Linked DNA regions of Homo sapiens: region 2 is linked to region 1. The links come from fine-mapping of genetic effects on gene expression. Tissue or cell type: whole blood. Region 1 holds a variant in brackets; the other region holds the start of a gene. All regions are shown on one strand. Distances are between the middles of the regions.

Region 1 (8,112 bases):
GATCCCCTAATTCCACTTTTTACCACTTTTAATGGTTCACCAAAGCTAAGATTTTACTTAGATAATTGCATTTAAGTATATGCAAAAACATGTTTATTTCCTCATTATTCTTCCTACTGTAAGCAAGTTGGTATTTACTTTTACTAGTTGTAAATATCCCAAAATATTTTTTAAATCTTCATACTATATGTAAATAGGGTAGGGTAGTGGTGGCGGTTTTTTGTTTTATTCATATACTTCTAAATCTCCAACCAACTTTCAATAAACTTTCATAAACTTTCCATAAAGTTTCAAACACTCCATAAACTTTCACTTCCATTCTTCTTGGGTTCTTTTTTCTCATTGTTCTCCATATACTTCTAAATATTACTTTCAAAACTTTCTGACTCACTGGGACCTTTCCTTGGAACATTGAGTTCTCCTGACAGTAACATGTCAGGAGAAGTACCAAGTGTGAATGGAATCTTGCCAGTGGCAAGGCAGAGGTGGGGCACCATCAGCTCTGACAAGGCTTACTAGAGGATTAGAAGAGCAAAGCCCTATAACACAGACAGCTTTCATCAGGAATATCTTTACATATAAGATAACATTAGTATTGGTGCCAATTCAACTGCAAAATAAAATAGTTGTTTATTGATGATTCTCTATTGAGTCCCTTTAAGTGCAATCTGAATGACTTAACTACAAAAATCAGTTTACATTCAACACTTGGGGTCATCTAATTTGTAAATGGAGATGTATCTATAAATACCAACAATGTAAAAGCCTATATAAACATAAATCCTGAAATATCTCTACTATGTCAGCACTTGAGTTTGTGAAGCTCTTCGCTCCTATACAAAATTCATTATTTCAAAAATACAGCTTCCATGAGAACCCTTGGAGATAAGCAGAATAAATCTTATCCCCATTATTTTCATGGGTAAAAGTTAAGTGACGTGAAGAATCACATTGTGAGTAGAGATGAAGTCAGTATCTCCTTATGGGTTGGTATGATTCAGTTTCCATTGTCCTGCAGTTTTGGGTAAAAAACATTGTCCTTATTTCTTAATAGTAATTAGCAGTGTAGGTACAGAGATATTGACATATTCATTTTGTAGATTATTATAAAGGATTAAGTAGTTTTCTAAAGGATATTCAGCAAATATGGTGAGTATGCAGCATATCAAATAGTATTCAGCATATTAAGTAATTTTCTGAAGGCTATTCAGCAAATGTAATTTTTGGCCTCACTGCCAAAAGCATCCTCAGATGAAATGTTAATGTATGAAGATTTGGTAGTTTGGGTTCTGTTTAACTTTCTTGTATGGAGTGTTTTAATGTGTTTTAGTGTTTTGATATATTTTCCTTGAATGTTTGCTGTTTTTGTTTTGTTTTTCAAACCTATCGTAGAAACTTTATTACATCAAAAATGATGTGGCAGAAAAAGCAGAATATTTGAAAGGCACTGGCACTAATTCTATAAGAGTATTATGTTTTTCTTTAACTGGAGATAGGAATATCAAATTCTTTTTTTTTTTACATTGATCTAGTGCAAGAATCTGGTATTCTTATTCAATTGTAAGCCAGAAAAGAGAAGACTACATCAGATATCACTGGTTGGCAGCAATTAGAAATATCAAGAGTACTATTGTTTATTACATTTTCACTTCTTTGACAAAGTGACTTGGATCTGATACAACGACCCAGTCTGTAAGACAAGGAACTGTGTGGTTTCCACCTACTGATAGGTATGTATGGGCGAGGAGCCACGTCAGGTAACAATGAGTGACGAACTATGTTTTTTTCCCCCCCGACATGTCATTATCTGGCAATAAATACTTAAGGTCATAGAGCCTGTTAATCTTTACAAAATCAAGGTGCTACTTGTAGTAAAACAAAATCTTATACAGTAGTTACCTTTTGACAAGTTAACATCAGGTCATCAGGGTATGGGAATTTGGTTACTTGTTCTTGTCTCCACCAGGGGGTGTATAGGTCCTGGGAAAGAATCCATGCCAGTATCTTTCCCTTAGCTGCGTTAATAAAATGAAGGGAGAGGATCAAAGTTACCTGTTCAAATAAGAATTAGAAATTACCCAGACATGAGTATCATGTAGCCATGGTTTCCGTGATCTCCTGCAGTATAGATGAAGAATACTTGGCTGAATATGATTGGCATTTTCAGAAATGTAATATAGCTAATGTCAAAACATAAAAATATTGATGGTGTCAGTGTAGTAGGCCTTGTGTTCTTTTTTTTTTCCCTTTTTCTTTTCTTGAGACGGAGTCTCGCTCTGTCGCCCAGGCTGGAGTGCAGTCGTGCCATCTTGGCTCACTGCAACCTTCGCCTCCCTGGTTCAAGCGATTCTCCTGCCTCAACCTCCTGAATAGCTGGGATTACAGGCATGCGCCACCATGCCTGGCTAATTTTTGTATTTTTAGTAGAGATGGGGTTTCACCATGTTGGTCAGGCTGGTCTCGAACTCCTGACCTCGTGATCCTCCCGCCTCAGCCTCCCAAAGTGCTGGGATTACAGGCGTGAGCCACCGCACCCGGCCGACCTTGGGTTTTTTTTAGGGTCATGTTGCCCATCAGATATTTACCAGATGTCCATCACTTGAGTGTATTGCTCACTGACCATGCTCCCTGGACAGCATTTAAAATGCCCCACTGAGTGCTCCCCTGACTTCTCAATAATGCATTCTTTATTTAAATGCACTACCAGAAAATTTAGTCTTTTTCCTTTTTTTTTTTTAAAAAAAAAAACCTATTCCATATTTCCTTCTGTTTTCCTTGGCTAAATTCTGATTTATCAGATTTTAATTCCTAGCTCTTTTCTACCTTTGCAGTCACAAGGTCTCACAACTTCTACTTTTGTTGGGAACAGGCCCCCCAAAATCTGGCCATAAACTGGCCCCAAAACTGACCATAAACAAAACCTCTGCAGCACTGTGACATGTTCATGATGGCCATGAGACCCATGCTGGAAGGTTGTGAGTTTACCGGAATGAGAGCAAGGAACACCTGGCCCACCCAGGGCAGAAAACCGCTTAAAGGCATTCCTAAGCCACAAACAATAGCATGAGCAATCTGTGCCTTAAGGACATGTTTCCTGCTGCAGATAACTAGCCAGACCCATCCCTTTATTTCAGCCCATCCCTTTGTTTCCCATAAGGAATACTTCTAGTTAATCTATAATCTATAGAAACAATGCTTATCACTGGCTTGCTGTCAATAAATGCGTGGGTAAATCTCTGTCCGAGGCTCTCAGCTCTGAATGCTGTGAGACCCCTGATTTCCCACTCCACACCTCTGTATTTCTGTGTGTGTGTCTCTACTTCCTCTAGCGCCGCTGGGTTAGGGTCTCCCCGACCGAGCTGGTCTTGGCATACTTTGATTTTTACCTTTCCCTCTTGCAAAATGTTGTTGCAACTTTACAATTATCAAGTGTGCTAACAGAGATATAAGTGGCAGAACTGCAAAATGAAAATGGAGAGAATTAGCATAGGAATTAGATGTCCCAAATTTTTAAGCATGCCTCTACCACCAACTCTGCAAGTCCCAACTTTCTCATCTCCAGAATGAGGAGATTAGAACATGGTCCTTCAGGTACAGCCATTATGGAAAACAATATGAACGTTCCTCAAAAGATTGAAAATAGAACTACCATTTGATCCAGAAATCCTACTTCCGCATATCAGTTCTACTTCTGAGTATATGTCCAAAAGAAATAAAATCACTGTCTTGAGAGATGTCTACACTCCCGTGTTCACTGCAACATCATTCACAATCACAAAGGTGTGGAAACAGCCTAAGTGTTCTACAACAGACGAACATATAAAGAAAACATGGTGCATATATACAATGGAATATTACTTATTCTTAAAAAAAATAGAAGGAATTTTCTAGTTTTTCTCTGCCACTTCTGATAACATGGAAAAACCTGAAGGACAATATGCCAAGTGACATAAGCCAGGCACAGAAAGATAAAAAGACAAATATCACATGAGCACTTATATGTGGAATCTAAAAAAAAAAATGCTTAAACTCCTACTAACAGTAGAACGGTGATTACAAAGGGTTGGGGAGTGGGGAAAAAGATTTATTGATCAAGGAATGTGAACTTTCAGTTATAAAATGAGTAAGTCCTGAAGACCTAATATACAGCATGGTGACTAAAGTTAATAATAATATATTGCATACTTGAAATTTGCTAAGACACTAGATTGCTATTGTTCTCACCACATACACAAAAAATATGTGAGTTGATGAAGCTTGATTATGATAATCATTTCACAATGTGTACTGTAATGCCCAACCTTGTTTTTACTAACCCTGTTCTTAGACTCTCCCTTTCCTTTAATCACCTAGCCTTGTTTCCACCTGAATTGACTCTCCCTTAGCTAAGAGAGCCAGACAGACTCCATCTTGGCTCTTTCACTTGCAGCCCCTTCCTCAAGGACTTAACTTGTGCAAGCTGACTCCCAGCACATCCAAGAATGCAATTAATTGATAAGATACTGTGGCAAGCAATATCCGCAGTTCCCAGGAATTCGTCTGATTGATAACGCCCAAAGCCCCACATCTATCACCTTGTAATAGTTTTTGTTTTTGTTTTTGTTTTTTTTTTGAGACGGAGTCTTGCTCTGTCACCCAGGCTGGAGTGCAGTGGCACAATCTCGGCTCACTGCAAGCTCTGCCTCCCGAGTTCACGCCATTCTCCTGCCTCAACCTCCCGAGTGGCTGGGACTACAGGCACCTGCCACCATGCCCAGCTAATTTTTGTATTTTTAGTAGAGATGGGGTTTCACCTTGTTAGCCAGGATGGTCTGGATCTCCTGACCTCGTGATCCGCCTGCCTCGGCCTCCCAAAGTGCTGGGATTACAGGCACCTTGTAATAGTCTTAAAGCCCCTGCACCTGGAACTGTTTACTTTCCTGTAACCATTTATCCTTTTAACTTTTTTGCCTACTTTACTTCTGTAAAATTGTTTTAACTAGATCCCCCCTCCCCTTTCTAAACCAAAGTATAAAAGAAAATCTAGCCCCTTCTTCAGGGCCCAGAGAACTTTGAGCGTTAGCCATCTCTTGGCCGCC[A/G]GCTAAATAAATGGACTCTTAATTCATCTCAAAGTGTGGCGTTTTCTCTAACTCGCTCAGGTACAATACTTGTATCGAAATGTCACATTGTACACTTTAAATATACACAATTGTTGTCAATCATACTTCAGTAAAGCTGGAAAAAAAAGAAACTGTTCCTTTAGTTCTGAATTCTGATATTGTTTCACAAAGTTAAACACTAACCAACAAAGTGCTTAAAGATGTCCTGACATGGTTAAAAATGGAAAAATGATACAAATCAGTGAATAACAGTGAGCAAATCTAGGGAAGTTATAACTTGTGTTGTTTATTGCCTTCCATTTGAGTTAGTTCTCTGGTAAGATAATTTGAGAATTCTTATTGAAAACATTTTCAGTCTAGTAAGATCTATGGACTGGTTTGTAGGGTATAATATTAACAAGTAGGTTAAACTCAGTGAAAATTTTATAGGACCACTACCTTTCCTGGACTTAATGCTTAACAGCTTTTTGAAGAAAGTTTAACTGCACAAGCCTATTCATCAAAAATTATAATAGTTTCATAGAGCACCATTCAGTCACTTAAAAAGGCCTAGTAGACAGGGTGGGGCGTGGTGGCGATGCCTGTAATCCCAGCACTTCGGGAGGCCAAGGCGCAAGGTCAGGAGATCAAGACCATCCTGGCTAACACGGTGAAACTCCGTCTCTACTAAAAATACAAAAAATTAGCCGGGCATGGTGGCGGGCGCCTGTAGTCCCAGCTACTCAGGAGGCTGAGGCAGGAGAATGGCGTGAACCCGGGAGGCAGAGCTTGCAGTGAGCCGAGATCACACCACTGCCCTCTGCACTCCAGTCTGGGCGACAGAGCAAGACTTCTTCTCAAAAAAAAAAAAAAAAAAAAAAAAAGGCCTGGTAGAGTATTTAATAATGTGGGGGAAATTCATGATAAGAACAAAGTCAAGTTAGAAACAGATTTACCTTAAGACTATAGTTTAGTTTTTTTTTAAAAAATATCATTTCAAACCCAAATTTTGATCTCTAGTATCATTGCTCACTAAAAGTAAGCAGGACTCCTTGAAGAAATGGCTGATTTCAGATTTAAGACAGGGAAACACAAGGTGAGCCCACTTTATCTTCTGACCAAAGTAAAGAAGCTTTCAAAGACATGGAGTCATTTCAAAAGGGCACAAAAACCTCGTAGATGGGGTTCCCACTGGACTAATTTGCCACCATTTGAACAACAAGATTGTAGGTAACTGAAACACACTGGGTCTAGGAAAATTCGTTAAGTCCATCATAACTCTCAAATAAGTCATAAAAACCTATTTGTTACCATTTGAGGTGGCCATTAAACCAACATCTTACTTTGAAAATTGGTAAGTAAAGGGAAGTATTACACATTTATTCTGCCTTTCCAGTAAGACCGGTATTTCTGAGTAACTAGTAGCCCTAGTTGACGAGTCAAAGCTGTACTTTACAAAAGAATGCGAGCTAATAAATATAGATGATAATAGATAGAAAGATAAAATTCACCATTTTGCAGCCCTGATGAAAATTACTGACTCAGGCAAGGATTATCAGTTGATGTTAAAATTGTTAGGTGATCAATTGGTGGGGAAGTGAATTTCGTATGTGATTTGCTTAAGGAACATCAAAAAAAAGATCACATTCTTTTCACAAGGGGGAAATCATAAATTTACAATGGCAGAGGCAGGATAAGACTAAAATTGTACAATAGAGAATAAGGCCATCATCATCCCAATTCATTGACCAAACTTAGCACCCCTAATGCTAGAACAACCAGGTATTATCCATCTCCTAATGAATTGCCTATGGTGTATACACATTAACTATGATGCACTTTCAACTAAAACACTTAATTTGAACCCATGGGAACTTTATTTTTTATTTATTTATTTATTTATTTATTTTTTGAGACGGAGGCTCACTCTTCCGCCCAGGCCAGAGTGCAGTGGCGCTATCTCGGCTCACTGCAAGCTCCACCTCCCGGGTTCACGCCATTCTCCTGCCTCAGCCTCCTGAATAGCTGGGACTACAGGCGCTCGCCACTGCGCCCGGCTGATTTTTTGTATTTTTAGTAGAGACGGGGTTTCACCGTGTTAGCCGGGATGGTCTCGATCTCCTGACCTCGTGATCCGCCCGCCTGGGCCTCCCAAAGTGCTGGGATTACAGGAGTGAGCCACCACTGCCGGCCAAACCTATCAAGACTTTAGATGTAACTTTCAGTTTATTGGAAACATATAGAAGAATAAACAGTTGCCACAACGAAACAATTAGACAAATTCAGAAGGTGAAACACTTTACAGAACAGATCAGTGTCATTGAGAAAAAAAAAGAGACTCTTCTACATTGGAGAGGTAAGTAGTGTGGCTTGGACAGGATCCTGGTTTGTATAGACCAGATGTAAATGATATTTGGAAGGTGGTTTGTGAAATATGGACAGGGTATATTTAAAAATTATGATTAATTTTTGTGAATTATGATAATATTTTGGCTATCCAGAAAATGTTTCTTTTAAAATACATACTAAAGTTAAAATGTCTTCAAAAATGTAAATGGTGATGGCATATAGGCTTTGGAGACAGGCCTGGTTTGACACCTGACTTCATTTACCAGCTAGTGACGTTTGGTCAAGGCATTTAAACTCTATGCCTTATTAACTGTCAGGCCTCTGAGCCCGAGCCAAGCCATCATATCCCCTGTGACCTGCACGTATACATCCAGATGGCCTGAAGCAAGTGAAGAATCACAAAACAAGTGAAAATGGCTGGTTCCTGCCTTAACTGATAACATTCCACCATTGTGATTTGTTCCTGCCCCACCTTAACTGAGCGATTAACCTTGTGAAATTCCTTCTCCTGGCTCAGAAGCTCCCCCACTGAGCACCTTGTGACCCCTGCCCCTGCCCACAAGAGAAAAGCCCCCTTTGACTGTAATTTTCCACTACCCACCCAAATCCTATAAAACGGCCCCACACCTATCTCCCTTCCCTAACTCTCTTTTCGGACTCAGCCCACCTGCACCCAGGTGAAATA
Region 2 (8,112 bases), 50 kb before region 1:
TGCATGCATTTTAAGTGTATACAGTGTGCTTTTAACAAACGTATTAATACATACCTGTGTAACTACCACCACAATCAAGTTATAAAACACTTCTGTCACCTCAAAAAGTTCCTACATGTCCTACAATTGGGGAACTGAATCCTTACTCCAAAAGACAGCCCCAAGCTACCACCAGCTTTTAGTCATTAAAGGTGTTGCCTGTTCTAAAATTTCATATAAATTAAATCAGACAATATTTACTCTTTCGCACCTGGCTTTTTTTACCCAAGATAATATCTTTGAGATTCATTCAAGACATGTGAATCCATAACTTCTTCCTTTTTACTATTGAGTAGTATTCCATTGTATGATTTATCAAAATTGTATCCATTCATTGGCTGATGGACATTTGGATTGTTTCCAGTTTACAGGCTATTACAGATAAAGCTTCTATGAACATTTGAGTTGAAATACTTTATAAATGTATACTTATATCCCTCTTGGGTCAATATTTAAGAGTAGAATTGCTGGTTCTTATGATAATGGAATATTTAACATTAGAAGAAACTGACAACCTCTTTTCCAAAGTGGCTGTACCATTCTAGGACCCACTAGCAGTGTATGAGAGTTCCATGCAGAAAGCCAAGGCAACAGCTACTCGGGAGGCTGAGGTGGGAGGATTGCTCTAACTAGACAGATTGAGGCTGCAGTGAGGCGTGATTGCACCACTGTACTCCAGCCTGGACAACAGAGAGAAACCCTATCTCAAAAAATAAATAAATAAAAATAAAGAGCCTGGGCAAATATAGTCACCTTGTTCGTTTTCCTTCTTTCAGATATCACAGACCTGTACTGCCTGTTGCTCAATGCCTTAAAACTGTTGTTTTTAGTTGTTAAGAGTGGGAGGACAAGTCCAACATCAGGTATACTGTCATGGCCAGCAGCAAAATCCACTTTGCGAACATCTTAAGAAATATGATGCCTGACTCCCACTCTATACCAATTATTAATAAATCTGAGTACCTGGAGACGAGAGAGAAGAGGTGATTCTAATGTACAAGAATGTTAGAGAATCACTGGCTCAGAGGATTCCATCCCCAACCTAAGGCAAGATCCTTCAGAATCTGTCTCAAGCCTCCATTCTACATCTGTCTCCTCCCCACCATTCCATAACCATCTTTTGTCATTTCTAAGTTGCAACCATATAGCAATTTGCTGACATGAATATAATATTTTAAATATCAGTGTCTTTGTAAATATCTTTGCCTTTACCAAGATTCTTTCTGGTCTAATACTTCTACTGGAAGTACTTTCCTTCAACACTCAGCTAAAATGTCTTTGGCTCTATGAGGCATTTCTTGTTAAAGAGCCCGAGATTTCTAGGGCAGAATCTGATGTTAAGAGAGTATCAGGAAAACAAGTGCAGTTTAGTATTTGGCACTGCCATTTACTACAGGGTGAAGTTAGTCTTCATCATCTGGTTTCCTCGGGTATAACAAGATAATCATAACTACCTGGTAGAGGGATAAATGAAATTACACAGGGAATGCACAGCTGGGGGAGAAAATTTTCTCCTTTACTCTCTCAGAGTCTCCAGCTGGGTCCAAGAATTAAACGGACACAAAACAGATTAACAGGGAAAAAGCATACAAATTTTATTTAATAAAACTTTACGTATAAGTGGGTGTCCTCACAGGAAAATAAACACCCGAAGAAGTGGCTAGGCCTAAGTGCTTATATACTAGGTTGAACAAAGAGAGGCAATCGTGGAAGAGTATCTAGGAAGATACTGGTTAGTTTAACAATATCTGTACAGATGTTTCTCGGCCTCAACTCCCCTTCTCTGGTGATGAGTATCTTTCCTCTTGGTATAGGGAGGGCATCTATCACATGGTAGTTTCTTTTCCTGCTTTCAGGAAGAAAAGGTCAGAGTGCTCTTCTTGCACCTGCTGTTTATCAAATGCTTTTTTTTGTTTTTTGTTTTTTGTTTTTAAGACGGAGTCTCTCTGTGACACCCAGGCTGAAGTGCAATGGTGCATCTCTGCTCACTGCAACCTCTGCTTCCCGGGTTCAAGCAATTCACCTGTCTCAGCCTCCCAAGTAGCTGGGACTACAGGCACGCGCCACCACGCCCAGCTAATTTTTGTATTTTTAGTAGAGACAGGATTTCACCACGTTGGCCAGGCTGGTCTGAAACTCCTGACCTCAAGTGATCCGTCTGCCTCGGCCTCCCAAAGAGTTGGGATTACAGGCGTCAGCCACGACGCCCAGCCTCAAATGCCTTTATACATCAAAACGATCAGTATGCCAAAGCTCGGGCGGCAAGCTGTCGACTCCAGCACCTAGCATGGTGCACACAGCAGATACCAACGGAGTATTTCCCCTCACATGGCTCACATTTCCTTTGTAACCCTCCCAAGCAAAGCTCTACTGCAAGCTGCATCTTACCCGTTTACATGTCTCTTTTCCCTACTAGACTGAGTTTCATAATGACTGGGACTATTTCTTTTTACCTTTGCATCCCTTGGGCATAAAAGTGCCTAGGAGGCCAGGCGCAGTGGCTCACGCCTGTAATCCCAGCACTTTGGGAGGCCGAGGTGGGCAGATCATGAGGTCAGGAGATCAAGACCATCCTGGCCAACATGGTGAAACCCCGTCTTTACTAAAAATACAAAAGTTAGCCGGGCATGGCGGCACGCACCTGTAGTCCAAGCTACTCGGGAGGCTGAGGCAGGAGAATTGCTTGAACCCGGGAGGTGGAGGCTGCAGTGAGCCGAGGTCGCGCCACTGCACTCCAGCTTGGGCGACAGAGCGAGGCTCCGTCTCAAAAACAAAAAGTGCCTAGGATAAGAAGACCAGAGTCTAAATCAATTTCAGTTGAATGACGAGGGCTTGATAGTCTCGAGATCTGCTTTTTTTCTTTTTTGAGACGGATCCTCCCTGTGTCGCCAGGCTGGAGTGCAGTGGCGCGATCTCGGCTCACTGCAACCTCCGACTCCCTGATTCAAGCGATTCTCCTGCCTCAGTCTCCCCAGTAGCTCGGACTACAGGCACGCTCCGCCACGCCCAGCTAATTTTTGTGTATATATATATATATATATGTGTATATATATGTATATATATGTGTATATATATATGTGTGTGTATATATGTGTATATATATATGTGTGTGTATATATATATATATATATATATATATATATATTTTTTTTTTTAGTAGAGAAGGGGTTTCACCATGTTGGCCAGGATGGTCTCGATCACCTCGTCCGCCTCGGCCTCCCAAAGTGCTGGGACTACAGGCGTGAGCCACAGGCCCGGCAGAGTTCTGCTTTTAGCAAATTATTCCAAGCACTTTTTACGGTGTTTTTCACTCTCAGTGCTAATTCACGCTGTGGTGACGATGTACCATCCAATCCTTGATAGGAAAGATCAGAGAATCTGACCAAGACTAGATGGAGAGGTTGCAATTTTTCATCAGATGAAAAATCCAGAGGATGTTTTCATTGTTGAGCTAAATGAATCTGCAAGTCTATGCTGCCCTCTAGGGCGGCCTACAGTGCCTTTAGGCGAGTAGCAGGAGCAACACAAAACTTAACAGAGGTTTCCCTGCGGAGAAACTCCCTTTAAGAAAAAAGGAGAAACCAAAAAGGTGGGCCAGCACCGGAAGCGGGGGCGCGGGTTCGGGTAGCGGGGACGCGCACGCACCTTGCGCGTCTTCGCCCCTCCTGCGGTTGCCAGGCAACCGGCCCCGGAAGTTGCGGCAGGTGCGTCCGCAGCGGGCGCCGCTAGCCAGCGGAAGATGGCGGAGGGCGGAGGCCCTGAGCCCGGCGAGCAGGAGAGGAGGTCTTCCGGGCCGCGGCCTCCGAGCGCGCGGGATTTGCAGGTGAGGCGAGGAGCCGGGGGAGGGAGCGCGGCGGTGGACGCGGGCTGGTGACGGCGCGGGCTGGTGCGAGTTGGAGGCCACCTCTGGCCTCGGCGGAGCCTTTCCCCGACCCCGTCTGGGGATAGAATCCGGCGCCCGGTCTCCCGATGTCGGGTCTTGACACTGTGGTGGTCGTGAACACAAGTGCCCAAGCCTCCAGCGCTGGTGCTTTGTCTCCCTTCCACCCCACGTATGATGTAAAAATAGCTATTCGTTTAGAATGACATTTTGCGGGGTCAGTTGGTCGGTTCACGGGTTGATGCTTCCTTCTTGAGACTTACTCCAGAAGAAAGGTTACTGTGGCCGCAGGGAAGTAGACAGTCACCTGAACAGTAATGATACGTGATTTGTTCTTTTTTGTCTTGGATGCTATTTCTGACTTGCTTACTTAAATATAAAAATGGTTCCATTTTATCAGGTAGGTTTTTCTTTTAAAGGGGTGAAGGAAAGCGATGCACTCTATGCCCATACAGCCTAGTTGTCTAAGCTGTGGTCTTTAAAACATTGCACTGAAGAAACTGGGAAATAAAATTTCGTAATGTTGTGTAGGACACTAGTATTAGTTAGCTAAATAGTAGCGCACCAAATCCCGTTTTATCAGATACTAACGCCACTTTTCTCATTTTAGGCGTTTTTGTGTCTCATTATAAGATTATTGATAAAAATTTGACAAGTAAATATCAGTAAGGAGATACTAAGGAGAATCTTGGTAGAACAGTTTTACTGTATTACTTTACAACCACACTTCATTCTAATGTGAACAAACCACCATCCATTGTAACATACTGCTGAGCTTTGCGAATGTGGAAATAAGGACATCAAATCCTTAGTCGGTGCTGAACTCTATTGATGGGTAGGTATGTAAGTGTAAAAGACAGTTCTACCTTTTGGAAGCCTACAGATTTCTTCGGAGAAATAGGGTATGAATACTTAGCATAACATTTTAAGATGGAGTATGATTGGGTGCCAAAATAAGCAGTGCATAAAGCGAAGAATTTGGAGGCTGGAGAGATCAGTGTAACATTAGGAGGTGAACTTAATGTAGAATAGTTCCAGCTCCCATAGTTGGTTCAGTAGTAGTAAACAGTATCAAGGGATAGGAAGCTATTGTGTACCTCATCTTTCCTATTATAAACCCACATCACTAAGAGGCAGCATGGAGTTAGTAGTCCCACCAATTTTGGTTTGCCTCTTAGTCCTGCTACTTAGTAGTTTTGTGAACTTAGGAGAAATGTCTTAACCTGTCTGATCCTGTGTCTTCATTTGTAAACTGAGGAAGGTCAGGGTGCTGGTGGTGGTGTAAGGATTAAATAATGTTATAAAGGGCCTATGCAAAATTCCTACATTATCCTGGCTCAGTTGTTGCTGGGCAAATATTTGATTCCTTTTTCCTCAGGAGAAAGATGCTATAACTTTCCCTGGCTAGTCAATTCTAATATCATTAAAGTTAATAGAGTGTGTAACTTAATGTCCTTTCCCTAATTTAAATCCATTTCTTCTTTTTATGTGAAAAGTGAGAACAGCTTGCTTAATGACCACCTGATTCTTGGCAAATTGTTTGCAGTCTTAATCCAGTGGATCAAAGTACGATTAATGTTTGGAGATACTCTGGTAGATGTTGCTAATTGTGAGAATGCCTTCATTTCCACCCTAAGTTATGATGGGGATTTTTTTTTTCATCTCCTGTCTACTTGTTGTAGGTTAGGGCAGTAGGAAGATAACTGATTTCTTTATGAATGTGATTTGGTGTATCAAGTACAGTATCTAAGTATTGATAATCTTTCCTTTAGAACTTAATATGAATGTGAAGAACTTGCAAAGAAACTTGAAAACAGCCAAAGGGATGGCATATCAAGAAATAAAGTATGTATCAAAAGTTTAAAAGAATTAAATAATGTTCTTCCCAAATGGTACCTTGGATATTGATTATTTATAGATTATCTTGTTACCGTTTAATCTAGACATGCTTTTCTTAAGAGTTACGCAGTTCGTGCAGCTTTCAGTAGATATTTCTTACTTCCCTAACAGCTTGCTCTAAGAGTCTTTCAGAGTGAGTAAAGGGGCAACATATTACCAATTGGAACAAGCAGAATTACCCCTGAGTAAGTGTATCTTAGCTGCCATGCAGTGTAGGGTTTGTCAGCATCTGAATCAGGAGGGAGTGTTCCAGGTACCACCAGAGAAAAGCTGCATAGTTGCTTCCCAAAAGGCCTCCCAGCCCTGGGAGCCCCCAGGTTACAAACTGCAGACTCGGAAATGTTTTTTTGCATATCAGAGTAGATTTTCATAGCTCCCTTCATCCCCCTCAAATAAGGAGATGGTCATGGGGAAAGTTAGGGGTGGGATTGTTAGTGGCAAAACTAAGCCCAAAACCTCACCAGTGTTCAATAGTATTTCTGAATTGCTTTCTCTTCTGGTGTCCCTCAGCCCGCCACACACATGTTCATTAAGGTATTTAGTTGTATACTCTGTCCCAGTTTTCCTCCACATATTATCTGTTTCTACATAGGTTGGACGGGGAGGGAGTGGGAACAGGGATAACTTCAGTATTGTTAGGGTTAGGATTGGATTTGTTAGGATGGACTCAATAGTGGGTACTATAAATGAGAAGAATTAAAATGTCTGATAGCTGTTCTGATAACTGTGTTGCCACAAGTACCCTAATCATATTGAATGTCATTATTCTGTATCGTTGATTCTCTAGTATGCATCTGTGACCTGGAAGGCTTGTCAGAGATTGCTGGGCCCTACCCCAGAGTGTGATTCATTGGTTCTAGAGTAGAGTTTAAGCATATGCATTTCCTAGAAGTTCCCAGGTGTCTGTATAATAATCATTTATTACAGCGTCTAGAATTGGTTACTCTAAGGCTGAGAATTCCAATACTTTTAATATTTTGCTATATACTTTATTTTCTCACCCGATTCCTTTGCTTTCAGGTTTCAAGTTCTTCACATTTCAAATTCTAGAGGAAAGATTATCAATACTTTACTTACATACTTTATCCTCTGCATATTATTGAAACATTTTCTTAATTACGTTTTGAGATTTTTTTGTTGTGTTAGTTTTGACCAGTACTTCAATTAATATTTATCAATTTAAATTATCATTTCCTCTTTTGATGTAATGTCATCTATGTTAAATAATATAAATTAAATTTCTTTGTAGTATTTACTAATGAACTCATGCCATATGATGCCATATGGCATCAACTCCCTCTAAATATTACTCATTTTCTTCTAAGTTTTTAATGATGTACCGTTAATAACTAGGATCTTTCAGCCAGGTAGACTCTTTAATATCATTTTCCTCATATTCCTCTTTTCTTAATGTATGTTCCACATTCCATGGGGCTAGTGGCATTTTTGCTTTTTTAATTTATGTCACCAAAGAAAATTGTTATTTGATTGGAAGCATTTATTCAAATCTTGTTAAAGCAAAAAGTGTTTAACAAATATAACCCCAATTTAAAATACATCTATCTATATCTATTTCTGATTCATTTTCTATTATGTTCTTTATATAATTCAACGTCAATTTGTTGCCTTTTAGGTACAATATTAGAAACAATTTGAGAAACTTAAAATCTAGTTGGGGAAATAAAACAGCAAAAGTACACAAGTAATGACAACATAATGCTTAATATGAATGTCATTGGGGGTATTACGTGCTATGAGTATTTAGAAAAAAAGATATTAAGAAGATTAGAAAAGGTTTTGTGAAGGAGAGCTGAAATGGGCCTTTGAAATACAGATGACATTTTCATTGATGAGAATAGGAATATCATAAAAGTAATTCATAAAGCTGACATAATGAGCTTAGAAGGAAATCCATAAAATAATACTACTTTAAAGAAATTTCAGGGAGGTAAAATTTCTGAAAACTTTAGACCCTAGTCATCAGACTGTGTATGTGCATGTCTGTCTCTCTCTCCTCTATCATTTGTTTGTTTTTTGTTTTGTGTTTTTGGAGGGGATGGAGTAGTAAAGGACCATAAGGAGATATAACACTGTAGGAAGAAAAAAAAATCTTGGGGAAAATGAAACACTGATACAATCATTACTAAACATTTAAGAATAATATCTTCTAGTGATGGAACACATGCTTTGTGCTTTCCATACATTATTTAATCCTTCAAATGACTACGGTGATTTTTTATAGGCATTTGAAGATGTGGTAACTAAGGCTCAGAGAAATTAAATAATTTGCCCAA

The links. PIP is the estimated chance that this variant, and not a neighbour inherited with it, causes the effect.
Region 2: UBXN2B starts here. The variant in region 1 is fine-mapped to the expression of UBXN2B in whole blood (TOPMed, PIP 0.99).

Annotation. Positions count from the first base shown.
Region 1 is chr8:58,457,850-58,465,961 of GRCh38, forward strand. No RefSeq gene overlaps it. Among named protein-coding and RNA genes, the nearest start is that of CYP7A1, 38 kb to the right of the region's middle. The variant A/G (reference allele first, on the strand shown) is at 5,079.
Region 2 is chr8:58,407,608-58,415,719 of GRCh38, forward strand. UBXN2B (UBX domain protein 2B) reads left to right here and starts at 3,754. Exons shown (of 8, transcript NM_001077619.2): 1 at 3,754-3,862. The coding sequence starts at 3,779. RefSeq lists enhancers at 3,750-3,809, 3,820-3,869, 4,150-4,199.